Regions from separate parts of the Homo sapiens genome. Here region 2 is linked to region 1. A link means that fine-mapping ties the variant in region 1 to the expression of a gene that starts in the linked region. Tissue or cell type: breast. Region 1 holds a variant in brackets; the other region holds the start of a gene. All regions are shown on one strand. Distances are between the middles of the regions.

What was found. PIP is the estimated chance that this variant, and not a neighbour inherited with it, causes the effect.
Region 2: ABHD6 starts here. The variant in region 1 is fine-mapped to the expression of ABHD6 in breast (GTEx, PIP 0.97).

What each region holds. Positions count from the first base shown.
Region 1 is chr3:58,418,032-58,426,132 of GRCh38, forward strand. It overlaps PXK (PX domain containing serine/threonine kinase like), which reads left to right. Exons shown (of 18, transcript NM_017771.5): 18 at 6,721-8,096. The coding sequence ends at 6,929. Among named protein-coding and RNA genes, the nearest start is that of PDHB, 12 kb to the right of the region's middle. The variant T/C (reference allele first, on the strand shown) is at 4,459.
Region 2 is chr3:58,234,106-58,242,208 of GRCh38, forward strand. ABHD6 (abhydrolase domain containing 6, acylglycerol lipase) reads left to right here and starts at 3,687. Exons shown (of 10, transcript NM_001320126.2): 1 at 3,687-3,811. RefSeq lists an enhancer at 3,098-4,037 and silencers at 3,259-3,428, 3,439-3,928.

The DNA.
Region 1 (8,101 bases):
TAGTCTTGAGCTCTGGGGCTCAAGTGATCTGCCCGCCTTAGCCTCCCATAACAGTGGGATTACAGGCATGAGCCACCCACACCCAGCCCTTTTTTTAAAAAATGGGTTTGTAAGAGTATTTTGGGAAAGCTGAGTAAGCAGAGGACCCTAAATTGTTATTTAAAATAATTATATGTAATATATTTGAAGCACTTATTTTGTGCCAGGCACTGTTGCTTTATGGTCACTTGTTTCAGTTAATCATCGTGAATACCTTCTTATCCAGTGTGAGTGGACTCCAGCTTAGGTCCATTTTACAGTTGAAACTGACACTCTAGTAGGATTAAGAGACTTTGACCGAGGTCACACAAGTTAGGGCGGTGCTAGAGCCAGGAGTGTAACTTGTTCTGTATTTGTTCATTTACCCCATTGATGTATTGAGTGCCTGCTTTCTTCAGGGTGCGCTGCAGGGCCCGTGCTCTTAAATACTGTTGTTGGCTGGTGTGAAAAGAACCCTGAATGTTGAGTCAGTAAACCAGGGCTTGAGTCCTAGCTCTGCCACATTCCCGCTATGACCTTGGACAAATAATTTCTGTTCTTTGAGGCTTTTAAAAGACGTCTCGCTCTTTATTAGATAGATGGCATACATGGCGAGGCTTTATAAGCGGTAAAGCACTATCAGGTATAAACTACGAATGTCTTGCAATCAGATAATTCTAGCTGTTCTTGCTTGTAGTTTATGTTTTAACCAATAATTTTGAGGTGAGAGAGCTGGCAGTTTGTAGAAAACCCAGTTTGCAAGAATGAGTGGAGAGAAAGGGAAGTTTCAAATCTGCAGAGGAAGAGGTGTGGGAGCCCGCCCTCTGAAGGTCTGCTTAAAATTCAACTCGCAAAACAGATGAATAAGAGAAAAGGCATACAAGTTTATTTAATAAGAGAAAAGGCATACAAGTTTATTTAATATGTATACACAGGAGCCTTCAGAATGAAGACCCAAAGGTACAGGGAAAATTGTCCATTTTTATGCTTAGGTTCAACAAAGTATGGACAGCTGTGTGGAAATATGATTGGAAGAAAAGGCTATGATCTAATGCTAATAGGCTGAGTGGGGAAACCCAGCAAGTCTGTCTGTCTAGATTCTTCTCAGCCTCTCTGAGCAGCATTCCTTCCTTCTGGGTATGGGCAGGACTCTCTCTGGAATGGGGGTCTTACAACCTATAGTCAGACAAGGTAGGTCAGGTGATTTCTTTTCTTTTTTGAGATGGAGTTTCACTCTTGTTGCCCTGGCTGGAGTGCAATGGCTCGATCTTGGCTCACTGCAGCCTCTGCCTCCTGGGTTCAAGTAATTCTCCTGCCTCAGCCTCCCAGGTAGCTGGGATTACAGGCGCCCACCACCATGCCCAGCTACTTTTTTGTAGTTTTAGTAGACACAGGGTTTCGCCATGTTGGCCAGGCTGGTCTCGAACTTCTGGCCTCAGGTGATCCGCCCGCCTTGGCCTCCCAAAGTGCTGGGATTACAGGCGTGAGCCACCACACCCAGCCAAGTTATTTCTTTATGGACAGTTTTTACACAGAAAGGTGGAGGGAGAGTAATATTTTTAGGTATGATGGCTTGCTTTGGGGAAAAGGGGTTCTGTTTCTGTGACCCACCTTGGAGAAGGAGGGATTCAAGTTTCTCTGGCTAGCCTTGGGGAACAATGGTACTGAGAAGGCTGGAGGGCCTCTTTTCCGTTTCCCAGCCCCTTTCCAGGAAAAGGCTGTGGGGCAGAGTTGGTTCATTAGGAACTCTGAGATTTACCAAAGCATGATCCTTCACATTTAGCTGGGGATCTAGTCAGTTTAAAAGAAGACAAGAAAAACATTTGCCTTGCTTTCCTTTTTAAAACGGCTTTATGGCCTTAAGTAAGTTTCACTGCCCAATTCAGCCTCTAGGGAGGGGCTCACAGGGCCTCAGGGAGGGGCCCAGTGCTTCCGCCTTGAGGATGCTTGCCCAGGATCTCTGGCCTTAGGCCTGCTCACACTCCTCCCAACTTTAAAGAGACAAATCTATTGTAGACTCTAGAAGACTTGCTTGGAAAAAAGTTATGGGTTTTCATTTTTCTCCCATCTTGATCAACTGTCCTTGTTTAATAATAGAACTAAGCACACTCCTCATATCCATTCTGCTCTTCAGAGGTAAAACCTTCATGGCTTTTCTGAAGTGAGCGTCATGCTTGTAAATAAATAAAAATAGTATCTAACTGGCTCAGAGGACAAAGAACATGAAGAAAGTGACTCATTAGGTGGCTCAAAAAGCGACTCATTGGTTATTCTATAAATACGTTTGCCATGTTTTAAAAGGCTCACAATCGTGTTTACAAACCAGTGCTGTGGTTAATTTGAGTATATCCTAGTTTCGAAGTGAGAATAATCAGCTTGTGATTCAGACTAATATTTTACTGTCTGTTACTATTTGATTAAATGACACTAAAATCTGAATAATGACTTGTGTCCCCCCTTTCTCTCTCTCTCTTTGCTGTTTTCAGTAGAGCATGCACCATTTTGAACGTGAATTTTCGGTAAAGTAAACTATGCTGATTTCTCAGACTTTAAAGATGCTCTGTTTCTGTGTGTGAAATAGGACCCAAAGTGTCTCGATTGCTGAAGTGATGAACAAGTGGGAAAGCAGATTTGAGACTATTTCCTTATCTGAATATTTAAATGAAATACAGCATCTTTAAAAAGCACCCAGTGACTTCATCTATATTCATTTCATTTTCATCATGACCTTCAAAATCTTCATTTTCACTCTGATTTCAGTTTTAAAATACAGCTCTAAAACCTGCAAATCAACTGCATGGCATTTTGGTATATTTTAATTTTGGAAACCATAACTCTCAAAGTCCCGTTGCTGCAAAAATGTTGATTCCTAGTTACTCTGATGAAGAGGAAAGAGTGTTAGGCACTTGAGCTCTTAGTTACAGGGAGACAACTTACTGGCTTTTATAACTGACGGTAGGGAAAAACAGTTCTTTTGTAAGCATCCTTTATAATTCTCGAGCTGTGACAGGAGTACAGCCTCCTCACCTGCCTGAAGCCAAAGGAGAAGGTGGTTCTCCCGAGAGCTGGGGGCTTGCCTGCTTCGGTTCTCTCCTGAGGGTGGCTGGTAAGTCTGGTGTTACCCTAGTGTGGTCTCATGGCCACTTGGCCTCCCTTCCTGTATGTGACCACAAAGGAGCTCAGAATTAGAGAGACTGTAGATTACCCACTGCTGGCTGCTAACATGGGCCTAAGAGTCGGTGGGGAAGGGAGCCAGGCGCAGTGGCTCACATCTATAATCTCAGCACTTTGGGAGGCTGAGGCGGGCGGATCACAAGGATCAGGAGTTCAAGACCAACCTGGCCAACATGGTGAAACCCCATCTGTACTAAAAATACAAAAATTAGGTGGGCATGGTACCACGCGCCTGTAATCCCAGCTACTCGGGAGGCTGAGGCAGAGAATCACTTGAACCCGGGAGGCGGAGCTTGCAGTGAGCCGAGATCGCGCCACTGCACTCCAGCCTGGGCAACAGAGCGAGACTCCATCTCAGAAAAAAAGGAACTGGAGGGAGGGACCCTCAGACATCCTGTCCACAAGGCTGTCAAGGGGGTTTCTGGCCTGGCATTCCTCCCTAGATCTGACCTACGCTCTCCCTGCAGCATTCTCTGCCCTCTGACAGGGCCTCTGCTGGACTGCCAGGTTCCCGTGTGGTTTGGTGGAGAAGATTTTGGGGTGGGTAGAGTAAGTAGTTGGCTCTCAGGGATTTTGTCTAAGAGAAAGTGAGATGGGAGAAATCGGGACTGACCTGGTCGTAACTGAAGGTAAGCTGTTTGCAGCATCCCCCTTCCTGGGTGCAAATTCAGGTATCATAAGTCTAACATGGAATCGGTCTGCTCTCATATGTGGCCTGGAGATAAGGGTATTGGAGGTCTCTTGGCAGGAAGGCCTCATTCACATCTGAGGGGTGGAGAGCGCGCAGGCAGCAGGCAGTTGTTCCCAGGTTTGTCACAGGCCAAATGGTAACTTTCATTTGGCCCTTGTTGCCCCTGCCCCCTCTTCCTCCATTGTTAGCCATGTGTTGTAGCTGAAGCCCCAACGGACCTTTCAGGAAGCTTGTGGACCATGGAAAGGGCCAAAAGGAAAAGCCAAAAACAATCAATGGGGCAGACTGAGTGAGACCGAGTCCCAGGTCTGTGTTCCTGCCTCCTCCAGTTTCCACCTTCTGACCCCTAGACCTCCTCTCCCCTCCAGAGTGTTCCAAACTGGCAAGCTGGGTCTGGCCTTCCTTGCCCTGGTTGTACATAAGAGCCACCATGGTTGTTGTAGGCCCAGTGAGGAAAAGTGGACTTGCTGGGACATCAAGCCCCACCGGACTGCTCCAGCCTGCTGAGGCCACATCAGGGAGATCCTGCTGCCTGTCCTTTCGTTCCATCTGCTTTACTGGAGCCCTGGAGCCCT[T/C]TGGACAGTGTATTTATTGACACCACCTACATTTTCAAAGAGACTCATTTAAAGTGACAGTGGAAAATCCATGTCCATTTACTTGGACAGTGGAAAATCCATGTACTGAACCCCACCCTCAACTCCCAAACTCTGCGGTGGTGCATTTGCACTTCTAATTTTGAGGGCCTGGTAATGACGCCAAAACCAAGGGTTGGTTCTCTGTGAGGCCAAGCAGTTTTGTTCTGTGCCAAGATGGCAGCCCCTACCCCTCAGCCCAGCCCTGAGGCCCGTCTCCAGCCCCCCAAAATCCTTGCCTGGAGGGCTAGTCAGTCTCTAGATGGCCAGTGCTGAGCCTTTAGTAGAACTCCCAAGTACCGCCGCAGCCGAGAGCCTGTCCTTAACTGCACAGTGATTCTTCTGCCGGGGGTCAAAGCACAAACCTGGGAGGCAGAAACCCTGGAGCTCCTTCTGTTACACTACGTGGCCCTGAATATCAAGTCCAGATTCCACTGCCCTTTTCTGGCTATTGGGTGGGAGGGTGCTGGGGAAGGGCACTGGCACCTACTTACCCCCAAGTGGGCAGAGCTCACTCCTTCGGGCCCACTTGGTGTTGCAGTCAAGAGACTCAGTTCCAAAAACCTTCAGCAGAGGTCTCCCCTCCTCCTGGTATTTCACTGGTTGCTCTCCAGAAGTCCTCTTCAGAGGAATGCTCATCACACATGCTTATTCTCCGTTTTCCCACTTCAACAGTTACTTCAGGTTTAAAGTCCTTTTTATCTCTGTAACCTGGTGACATAAAGCCAGGAACATTTTCCCACAATCCACCTTAGCATAAAACATAACAATTTCATTCATCAGTTGTTATTGTGTAGAACCAATGAACATGTTGGTCATTTGTCTGTATTTAGTCTTTATTTGTATTGCTATCTTTGAGCATTCCAAGATTGCAGAGCATGAGCGTGTGTATTTGTGTGATTCTTTAATTTCAGCTGCCTTAGGTTTGAGTAAAAGATGTAAAGAAAGGTAAGTGATTTTCTATTGTAAGACTTTAACCCATACCTGTCACACTTGGTGAAAAGGATGTACTTACCTGAGTATTGTGTTGGTGATTCTGAGCCAGTCGTCCATACAAACTTAAGTAGGGTAGCTTTACCTGTTACTTATCACAACTCAGTAGCAGTGTAGGGGAAACCACCTGGCAGAATGTCTCCCTGGAGTAGCCCTGGGAGGGACAGAGACAGCATCTGACAGAGTCTCAGAGAGCTGCAAGGTCACAGGAGACGAGGCAACTAACTGTGGCACAGGAACATTCTTTAAGGCAAGGCTTTTTCTGAACTCGGGTGTTTATTCTGTCCTGAGAGAACCATTCATTGATTCTAAAATATAAAATTCGAGTTGCAAATGTCCATGTGCCTGGAAGCTGAGGGAAGTTTTAGACACCTGCCCAGTTTCCCTCTCCTTGCCCACTGCGGTACAGCACGACATTCTAGTTTCTCCTGATGCTTCGTCAAAGACATTTAGTGCAGTTATGTCCTGTTCCTTGGTTGGGCCACAATGGAGAGAACAGTACTTGAGAAGGATTTCTCTGTAAGAATACCATGGCAGAGAGACCCCTCTGCCCCCTGCTTTGCATTGCTAACAGTTATTAGCATTTTATATTTCTTTAATGCAACCTAATAGGAAATTATTATTCGAGACAGACTCCTCTGGGAAATGCATAACCCAGGAGGCACTGATTCCTTGCTGAGAATCCTGAGTGGTCTGTCATTTTACATAAGATCACATCCTTCAAACATTGTGTATGTTGGAGCAGCGAAAGAACTGTTCACCCCTTATGAATAACTGACATTCAGGAAGCCCAACTCCATCATGCAGATGTCTATCTTTAATTGCTAGCTCAGAAGCAGACAGAGCTTCCTGGGACCTGGCTAAAGTAACTGATAGATGGAACTCTTCTTTGGGGACTATTACTTTGCAAATGGGGTCAGAGCCTCATCTATGCAGAGAATGTCACCATATGTGGTTTCATGTAATCTGTAATTATTTGTTCCAACAGCCTTTAACATGACTATTGTTTGAGAAACATGGCAACTTTTAATTCCCCTTTGATGCTTCTAGCTTTCTTTAGTATTTTAAGAACTCATACAGTACTAGGTATGTTGGTCCCTCTGAGAAAAACATGTGGACTCTCACCAGTCCGTTGTGCTCAGGACTGAGCAGCAGCGTGTGTGCAGGGCAGCTGTGGAGGTGAATACTGATTGTCCCCCTTTTCCTCCACAGGGATATCTGCATTACCTCCACCTCCTCCACCTCCACCACCACCAGCAGCTCCCTTGCCTCCTGCGAGCACCGAGGCACCTGCCCAGCTCTCGTCTCAGGCTGTGAATGGCATGAGCCGAGGGGCCTTGCTCAGCTCCATCCAGAATTTCCAAAAAGGAACTTTGAGGAAAGCCAAAACCTGTGATCACAGTGCTCCGAAGATCGGCTGAAGCTTCCTGTTTACACTTGGAGGGAAAAGTTCTTTTTTATTCCTACTCACCCCTACCCCCCAAACTACCCTCTTCCTGGGAAAGTAATTGCTGAGCCAGTACAGCCACAAACAGTACTATTTTGCAGATGCTCATGTAAGCAGCTTTTCGAGAGAAATAATTCTTTAAGCAGAATAAAGTTAGGCTGGCATTGCTCCCTTAAGATCTTGCTCCTTTATTAACCCTGTAAAGGAGTCTTGTTTATCCTCTAATGGCCAGGCTTTTGGGACAGCAGCATATTGAAATATTTTCACCAACTAAAGGAAATAGACAGAAAAACAATGACAATATTCAATCACAGCAGTAAATGGCCTTTGTGTTGCAATCCCTTCTACCCCATCAGACAGCTCCTAGAAACATTCCTCTTACAGTTCATTTCTCTAAAGCATTTTCTGATTCTTAGATAACTCCAATTTTTGCTACCTTTATCTTAGACATTAACACTATAGCCCAAAGCATAGTTACTTTGCTAAATCAGAAAGCAACTGAGTTCTTTGTTTTCTCCTCAAATAGAATGGGGAACGTTCACAACATTCTCTTAAGTTCTAACAGGAATACCATTGTGGTTATAGAACTCAGGGCTGCTAAAGCAACTACTCTAGACCCATAGTTCTTTTTAGTTAGATGTATTGAAACAGACAAAAATATTAACATCAGAAAAAGCTCTTGCCAATTAGAGGATCTTCTTAATCCTCAGCAATTAAGTTTGGGGTTTGAGGGGGGCAGGTCATTGTTACAACAGAAGTAAATTTGGCATCTATAGAAATCAATTATGATTTTTGAAAGATTTATCTAAATATATCAATATAGCATCTCTTTAATGTTAGTCATTTATTAGAAAGATCCTTTATCCTGATTTGCTTAAACCTTTCAATAAATTGCACTTTAAAGGATTATAAATAATCCATTTAAAAATTCAAGTACACACATCAGTGTTGGTTACTATGCAGAGAATGTCATTGTGTATAGTTTCATGTAATCTGTTATGTCAGCTGTATTTTTTATTAAAATCATGTCAAGAAAACGTGTTGTCTGTAGCTTGACAAGATATTTCAAATGAGAACTTTTTGTAGCGTCTGTTGTTAGCAAAGAATAGATTCACACAGTCTAAGGTTTCCTTCCTACCTATCCTG
Region 2 (8,103 bases), 180 kb before region 1:
ACCCAGTCTTGGTTATTTCTTTACAGCAATGCAAAAACAGACTAAGAGGCCAACATGGGGAAATCTTGTCTCTACTAAAAATACAAAAATTAGCTGGGTGTGGTGGCAAATGCCTGTAATCCCAGCTACTCAGGAGGCTGAGGCAGGAGAATTGCTTGAACCTGGGGAAGTGGAAGTTGCAGTAAGCCGTGATCGTGCCGCTGCACTCCAGCCTGGGCGACAGAGTGAGTGAGACTCTCTCAAAACACACACACACACAGACTAAGATATTTGGATAGGTGATTTAACACATTTGGGTAGATTTGAGGCTCAGAAACTCTCTGAGCCTCAAAATGTTCCTCATTTGTAAAATAGGGCTAATAACAGAGTGGTTGGGAGGAATCCATGAGATAATGCTTGTAAAGCACTGAGCACAAGGTGAGGAACACAGGAAAAGCTCAACACATGGTAGCTAATTAACATTTGCCTGTTCTGTGCTACTCATCATGCTTTTCCCTGGGGAGATGGAAGTGGAAAAGGAATTCACAACTCCGTGGAGTTGAGAGTTGCCTAAATAAATAAACATATCGTCATGTATAATGTGCTACAGGGGTGTGGACGATGGAAAAATTAATTTTGCCTGGATAGTCAGGTAAGGCTGCTGGGAGGCAGTGATACTGGAGTTCCAGATTGGGCAGAGGCCTCAGGGATTGGCTCAGAGTTGTCACACAGCAAATGCTTGGGGAATAGATGGTACGAATGACTCATAAGCTCAGGGGTGCTGCCCAGCTGGTGTCTGTGTACACATGGTATCTTGTGTTTTTTGCTTTTCTCCTGCACACATTTCCATGTGCTGACATGGCTTTTGTGTGATTCCCTCACAGCTTGTGTGTGATTCCCTGATTAAATAGCTTCTAATATTTTATTATTATAAATAGACTCTAAGTCCTTGAGGGCAAGAAGTGTGTCTCTGTTCATCCAGACAGTACCTAGTATGTAGTAGGTTCTCAGTAATGTTTGCTACATAAATGAATGAGTGAACTCCTTTGACCGCTGGCCCTGCCATAAGCTGGCTGTGGGATCTTGAGTGAGTCCATTAACCCCTCTGTACCTCGGTGTGTCTGTAAAGTGGGTTAGTATAACTCACAGGTGAGCATATTTCACTATGTGTTGTGAGGACTAAGTGATTTGATGCCCTGCGGCTGAAGGTAGTAAGTGCGCATTAAATAATGGCATCCTTCAGCTCTGATAGCTGTGCTGCTGCATCCAGGAGACATGTACAGGCTTCATGGCAGAGTGAATCCTGGAGTGTTCTGCTGCAACTGCTGGCAGAGGAAAGGTTTCAAAACTCTTTCTTAATGCTAGGGTGAGACCTGTCCACTGATAAGGAGTTTCTATTTGGGATGACTAAAGGTGCCATCTGGAAAGTACCAGGCCCCTGGGACTGCTCCCTGGTCTCCCACCTAGGTGGGATTCCTCAGTGACAGCACTCAGGGGTATCACCGGCTCAGGGAGGGGCCGGAGGTGAGTTCCCTTATCTCCTCTTGCCTCCTTCACTGTAAAACTGGAGCTAATAAGGTTTCTCTCCTGTCAGCCATCCAGTGGAGATAAGTCACCCAGAATGTGACTCCCACATGGGGCTCAAAAAGGTGTTTCTAAATATAAAACTCTGAGGGAAAAAAACCCTCGGGATATAGAAATTCCAGGCCCTTGGAGACGCCCAGGGTCACAGGCTGTGAGTTAAATAAAAAACCCACCAAACTGATGAACTACCCATTTTTAAGGTTTTGGAGAGGGAAAATTAAAAGACTAAGGAGCAATTGTTTTAAACTTTATACCAGGTGTATTGATGGCTTCTAGGCTGGGGCCTTCCAGGAAGTCATTCATCAATTTCATTGTCTATTTATTCACCCCCTGGACTCCTGTTTTGGTGAATGTTCCTGAGTCCAAGATGCTAATCCAATAGGTGGCCAGTAGTGACTGAAGGACATTTAATCCCCACATTTTGTGCTATCTCTGTGGACCTGCTCTGGGGATGTTGGTGGACTGCTGGCTTGGAAAGGTTCTGCTTCAGCCGTAAGGAGAGATAAAGCCAGAGAGGTGGGACTGAGCAACCCGCTGTTTGGTGAATAAATTGCCACTGAAACTCGGGGGCCATTCCCTGAAGTGAATCACATGCAGCCATTGAAGTCTAAGTGATAAGGCAGCCAACAATTTAAAGGAAAATGCTCCAGCCCAAGCCAGGGGGACTGTCCCAAACTCCGGATGAATTCCAGCTGCCCTGCAGAGCAGGGTTTACAGGCATGGGGATCACTAGTGGCTTCAGAGATGCCCCTTTGCCACTTCTCCGGGACTTCTTGACTGTGTCCTATTCTTAAAACCCAGGACCTGCACCACTCAGCCAGGCTCCACCAGCGTGGAGGCCTTGGCAGGCTGAGGCCCAAAGGCTGCCTTTGTGGGGGATTTAAACGGCCAAGAGAGTCTTGCTGAGCCCTGGCCCCTTGACGTCTGGAGTGGCAGGCCAAGCACTCAGTGCAGCAGGAAGATCTGGGTGCCACTAAGGCCCCTAACAGGTGTAGTAAATATCTGTTAAATGAACGAATACATGTTTTGATGAAAGAAGCCCACAGTGCAGTGTGAGCCCAAAGGGGTCTTACTGAAGGCTTCCTGGAGGAAGTGGCAGCTAAACTGAGACATGGAAAACACGGAAGAGTAGCCAGGCCAAGCTGGGGTTTAACTGTCCCTAAAAGAAAGAAACGACCATAGCAGGGGTTTAACCAGAGGTGGCCGAAGGCCTTTCCAGGTGCCCATTTCTCCCGTATAGCTTTGGAGTCAGACGATCCTCGGTTGGAATTCCCAGTTCAGTCCTTACAGTCTGACGTCCCGCACAACCCGACGCCGGCAACTGTCTCCAAACACCCGAGAGCCAGGGCGGGAGCATGAGCGCCTACGGTGTTCCTTGGGGTGGAGCCCTCGCAGTGTCCAGAGGATTTGGGGGCTCCTGCGCCCCCATTTCTCCCATTTCCTGGACTATCCAGGGCAAGCCCCTCACCTCCCTGAGCCTCGGTGTCTTCTGAGAAAAGAAGTCGACCCCAGTGCCTACCTCATAGGATTACGTGAGACAACCGATGTCAAGCAGTGTTGCTTTGCTGCCTGAGAACCCCTGCCTGTCCCTTTCTCTCTGATGCCCTTCGGGGCAGAGATCCAGAGATCCTGCCTGAGTCACTTTGGCGGGTTTAATGCCCAGCCGCGCCAGGCACACAGTAGGTGCTCAGTAAGTGAAACAGTGCCGGGAAGAATTCGGGCCGGGGATGTGGAACTGTGTGTGGCTCTGCGGGCTCAGAGGCCCTCCCCGCGCCCCGCCACCGTGTGCGTTCCGGGGCGGGGCGGGGCGGGGGCGGGGGCGGGGGCGGGGGCGGGACCGGGCGCTCGGGCTCCGCCCCCGGTACCTCTGTAGGCGATCCTGCTCTCGCCGTGGCTTTCGGGTGCTAGGAGACAGTTGCCGGCGTTGGGTTGTGCGAGACGCTAACTGTACCCTCCGGGTTTAACGCTGTGAGGCAGCGCGCGGAGGAACTGGGGATAAGCGCCCCGGAGCCCCCAAACAGAGCGCGGCCGCTGGGGGACAGCGCGCGGCGCCGGGTCGGGGCGGGGCGGCTTTTCTGTCGGAGGACGCGAACCGGCACGCTGCGCCTTTAAGGAGTCCAGCTGGGCTGGGCGCCGGAGCTGGGAGCGGCGCGGGTAGGAGCCCGGCGGCAGGTCCCAGCCCGGGGCTAGAGACCGAGGGCCGGGGTCCGGGCCCGGCGGCGGGACCCAGGCGGTTGAGGCTGGTCAGGTGAGCGGAGGCGGGCGGGCGGGCGGTGGTGCGCTCCTAGGGGGATGGGGCGCCCTGATGGCCCCGTGACCTCTCCCCCAGTGTCTCCCTGCAGCGGCGCATCGAGTGGAAAGAGTCGGCGATCTGCACTTGCCTTTCCACTCCGCTCCCCGCGCGGGCGCTGCCCCCACCTCCCGCTGCCTGGATAGGTTTGAGATGCCCGAAACCCGGCGCCCCATTTCCTGGGTCCAGCCAGCCTCTTGAAGCCGGGGGACAGAGTGAGGACGGGTCGGGACCTGCACCCTCTTTCTACTTCGCCTCCCCACCCCCTGCGCCCGCAGCAGCCCTTAGGCGCCCCTCGCAGTGCCGAGAGGATTTTGGGGTCCTGCAGCCCTGTTTCCCCCATTTCCTGGAGAAGGACTGCAGCTCGCCCACCCAGATAGCATCTTGCTCCGTGTCACGCGCCGCCTCCGCGCCGTCCCCAAGATCTCGCTCCGCTACTCCCCTCCCCCAGCAGCCTTTCAGCTTCCCTTTCCCCAGCCTGCCCCGGCTCCCGTGCCCTTGCGCCCCTTCCGTGTCGAAACACTTGAATCAGGATGCTGTCCAGCCAGGTACCCGCCGGCAACTTGCGGTCCCCCGCCTACAGCGACACAGGTTTCACGGCTGCCTTAGAAATGCGGATTGTGTAACGCCGGCTGCAGGGCAGTGCACGTGCAGGGTTTGCGCCCCTGAGCCCACAGCGAGGCCAGGTGACAGAGTGAGGCATGGGGGAGTGGGGGAAGAGGAGGATGCCAGAGGGTCTAGATACTGTGCATGCAGAGAATATGTATTTTGAGCCCTTTGTATGCCCCAGGAGCTGGGTGGTTAGGAAGAGGAAATAAAGTGGGGGTCTTACTCCAGCTGGGACCTGGAGGCCCTCATTTATCTCGCCGCCCCCCTCCCCGCTGCTCCCGCCTGCTCAGAAATCCCTAGTGGCTCCACCTGGCTAAGAGTTTAAAGTAGTTTATAATGAATAATAGCTGACATAGAATAAGCAAATCTTGTGTGCCAGGCCCTGTCCTAAGCCCCTTAAAAGAATTACCTGCCATACTTTCCCCAACAGCCCCTTGAGGTAGGTACCACCGCTGTGCCCATTCCTGAGAGCAGGAATATGAGGCTTCCAGAGGTGGTACCTTCCCAAGACACGAAGTGAGTCTGGCCTCAGAACCACCCCCTTCCCCCAACCGCCCCCCCAACCCGACCTCGAACCACTAGACTTTTTACCCAATTTCAACAAATTCTTATCAAGAACATTGTTATAATATAGGAAATTAGAAATAACAGAAATTAATCACCTGTGTTTCTAGCACTAATTTGTTTTTCTCAGACCAGCAAGGGCCTCTCAGCTTCTGGTAATAGTACCCACTTTAAAGGGTAGTGGCAATATTTAGATAAAATAATGCACAGGGCCCAGCATGTTTTAAGCACTCAGAAAGCAGCAGCTGTTATTATGAAGAGTGGTAGTTGACCACTACCTTGAATTACTGGAAAAAAATAATTAATAAATGGCTCACACTGACTCTACAGAAATTAACCATTTTGTGTGCTCAGAAAGGCCTATGAGACTTTCTCTATTTTCATCTTTTTATTATTTTTATTATTTTGCCTTTTCGACACATTCTGTGGCTTTCGTCAACTCCAAATTATCCATTGTCTTTGTAGTTAGAGACAGAAGTGCCCTTCTGGTTTTTTTAGCTTTTAAAATGTGTGACCTTTGATTCTGTGAGCATCTGCAAACCTAGAGTAAAAGATGGGAATGCAGTTTGTGCAACTGGGAAGTAATTCTGAAACTTGATATGAGAAAAAAATTGTCCTTAGAGGTGATCCTGGTTTGCAGTATGCGTTGGGTGAGGTCTATCCTGGGGGCGAGAAGTTAGACTCAAAGATTATCTTTGGGTTTGGAGGGAAGAAAGGCAAGCATGAATGTTTTGTCTCGGTGTGGTGGGCTCACACCTCAAAGTGGCCAGCACTTTGAGAGGCCAAGGCAAGAGGATCACCTGAACCCAGGAGTTCAAGACTAGCCTGGGCAACATGGTGAAACCCCATCTCTACCAAAAAAAAAAAAAAATTAGCTGGGAGTGGTGTTGCGTACCTGTAGTCCCGGCTACTTGGGAGGCTGGGGTGGGAGGATTGCTTGAGCCTGGGAGGTCAAGGCTGCAGTGAGCTGAGATTGCTCCACTGCACTCCAGCCTAGGTGAAAAAGTAAGACCCAGTCTCAAAAAATAAAATAAATAAATAAAGAATGAGTGTTTATCCTAGTAGGCTAGCTAAGATTGGAAATCAGCTTCACTATGTCATATTCTTTAAAAAAATTTTTTTTTTTAGAGATGAAGTCTCACTGTGTTTCCTACTCAGGCTGACCTGGAACTCTTGGGCTCAAGTGATTCTCCCACCTCAGCCTCCCAAGTAGCTAGAACTACAGGTGTGCACCACCACACCTGGCATGCTATGTCATACTTTTTATGAAACTCCTGGTTATTTTGGTGATTAGATCAATTATTACCGTGATGAGTGTTCAAAAGAAAAGAGGCAAGACATCCCCATCAAAGCTAAATATTTGGAAGATGCCAGGAAGCTAGTTCTGCAAGTTGAAAAAAAATTCTTTAAAAATTTCTCCTATTTGAGTCTTAAAAAAATTTTTTTTTTAAGGGACAGGGTCTCACTCTGTTACCCATGCTGGAGTGCAGTGGAGCAATCTTAGCTCACTGTAACTTTGAACTCCTGGGCTCAAGCAATCCTGCTACCTCAGCCTCCTAAGTAACTGGGGCTACAGGTGTGCACCACCAAACCTGGGTAATTTTTTTTTTTTTTTTTGAGACGGAGTCTTGCTCTGTCGCCCAGGCTGGAGTGCAGTAGCGCGATCTCGGCTCACCGCAACCTCCGCCTCCCGGGTTCAAGCAATTCTCCTGCCTCAGCCTCCAGAGTAGCTGGGATTACAGGCATGCACAAGCACGCCTGGCTAATTTTGTATTTTTAGTAGAGACGGGGTTTCTCCATGTTGGTCAGGCTGGTCTCGAACTCCCGACCTCAGGTGATCTGCCCGCCTCTACCTCCCAAAGTGCTGGGATTGCAGATGTGAGCCACCGCGCCCGGCCAAACCTGGATAATTTTGAAATTTTGTTGTTGTTGTTGGTTGTCACAACTTGTAGGTAACATCAAGTGGGTAGAGGCCAGGGATGCTGCTAAACGTCCTACGATGCACAGGACGGTGCCACAACAAAGAATTATATGGCCTCCAGTGTCACTTGTGCCACAGTTGAGAAACTGAAACTGGATATGATTTTCACAACATTAAAGTCCTTTCTGACCTTGCATGTAGTTGCCTCTTCCAAGAAGATCAAAGTATTCTCCTAAACCGGACCCTCAGAAACCCTCTGGATCCTATTTGACGCTTCCCAATCCTAGAGGCCACTTGGGGTGTTGCTGCCTGTGGCTGGATGGGTTTGGGGTCTGTCATGAGCTTCTGTGCGGCTCTCTGGTGCTGTACCAAGGAAACTGCTGATTCAGGGGAGCAGGACAGCACTCAGGAGGTGTGGGCAGAGGTTCTTACACTGCTGCAGGTTGGGATCCTCTTCTTTTTAAGTAATATATTAACAGCAGCCTTTGCTCTTAGGCATTTTTCCAGAAGCTGTGGCTGTTTGGCTGTTGGCATTGGGTGTTTGCCTTGTGATATACCCAGAAAAGGATTCATACGTTACATATGATGAAGTCTGGGGATGGGACTGGATTCTGAGAGTATAAAGATGGCAATGCAGACCCTGCCCAGAGACTACTCAGGCATCTCAATAGGCCTGAGCAGTGGCCATGCAGGGTGGTGGAGGTATGGCAGGGCTGCCTAACTCTGCCTGTGAAGTCAGGCAAGATCCCAGCAGTGCAGAGTGAATGCTTAGTATCTGCCTGTCACTGCTTTGAACAGTTTCCTTGCATCATCCCATTTCATCCCCACACTGAGGTAGAATTCTAAGAGGTTAGGTCACTTGCTACAGTCACATGGCAAGCATGTGACCAGAGCAGAGTCACAGTGGTCAATGGCAGAGCAGAGATTTGAACCCAGGTTGTTGAGCTGCAAAACTGAACTGTCAGGAGCATTTACAGAGAGCGGCAGTGCTTTAATAGCTAAGACTTTTAGGATGGGCTGGAGCTCGCCAGGCGAGAGGGAGAATAGGCGTGCCGGGGAGAGAGGAGCAGGTGTGTCAAAGTCCCGGAGGTGTGGGAGAGCACGGCATGTCTGGGGGTTGCAGATCATTATTGGAAGGGATGGAGGGCAGGCAATA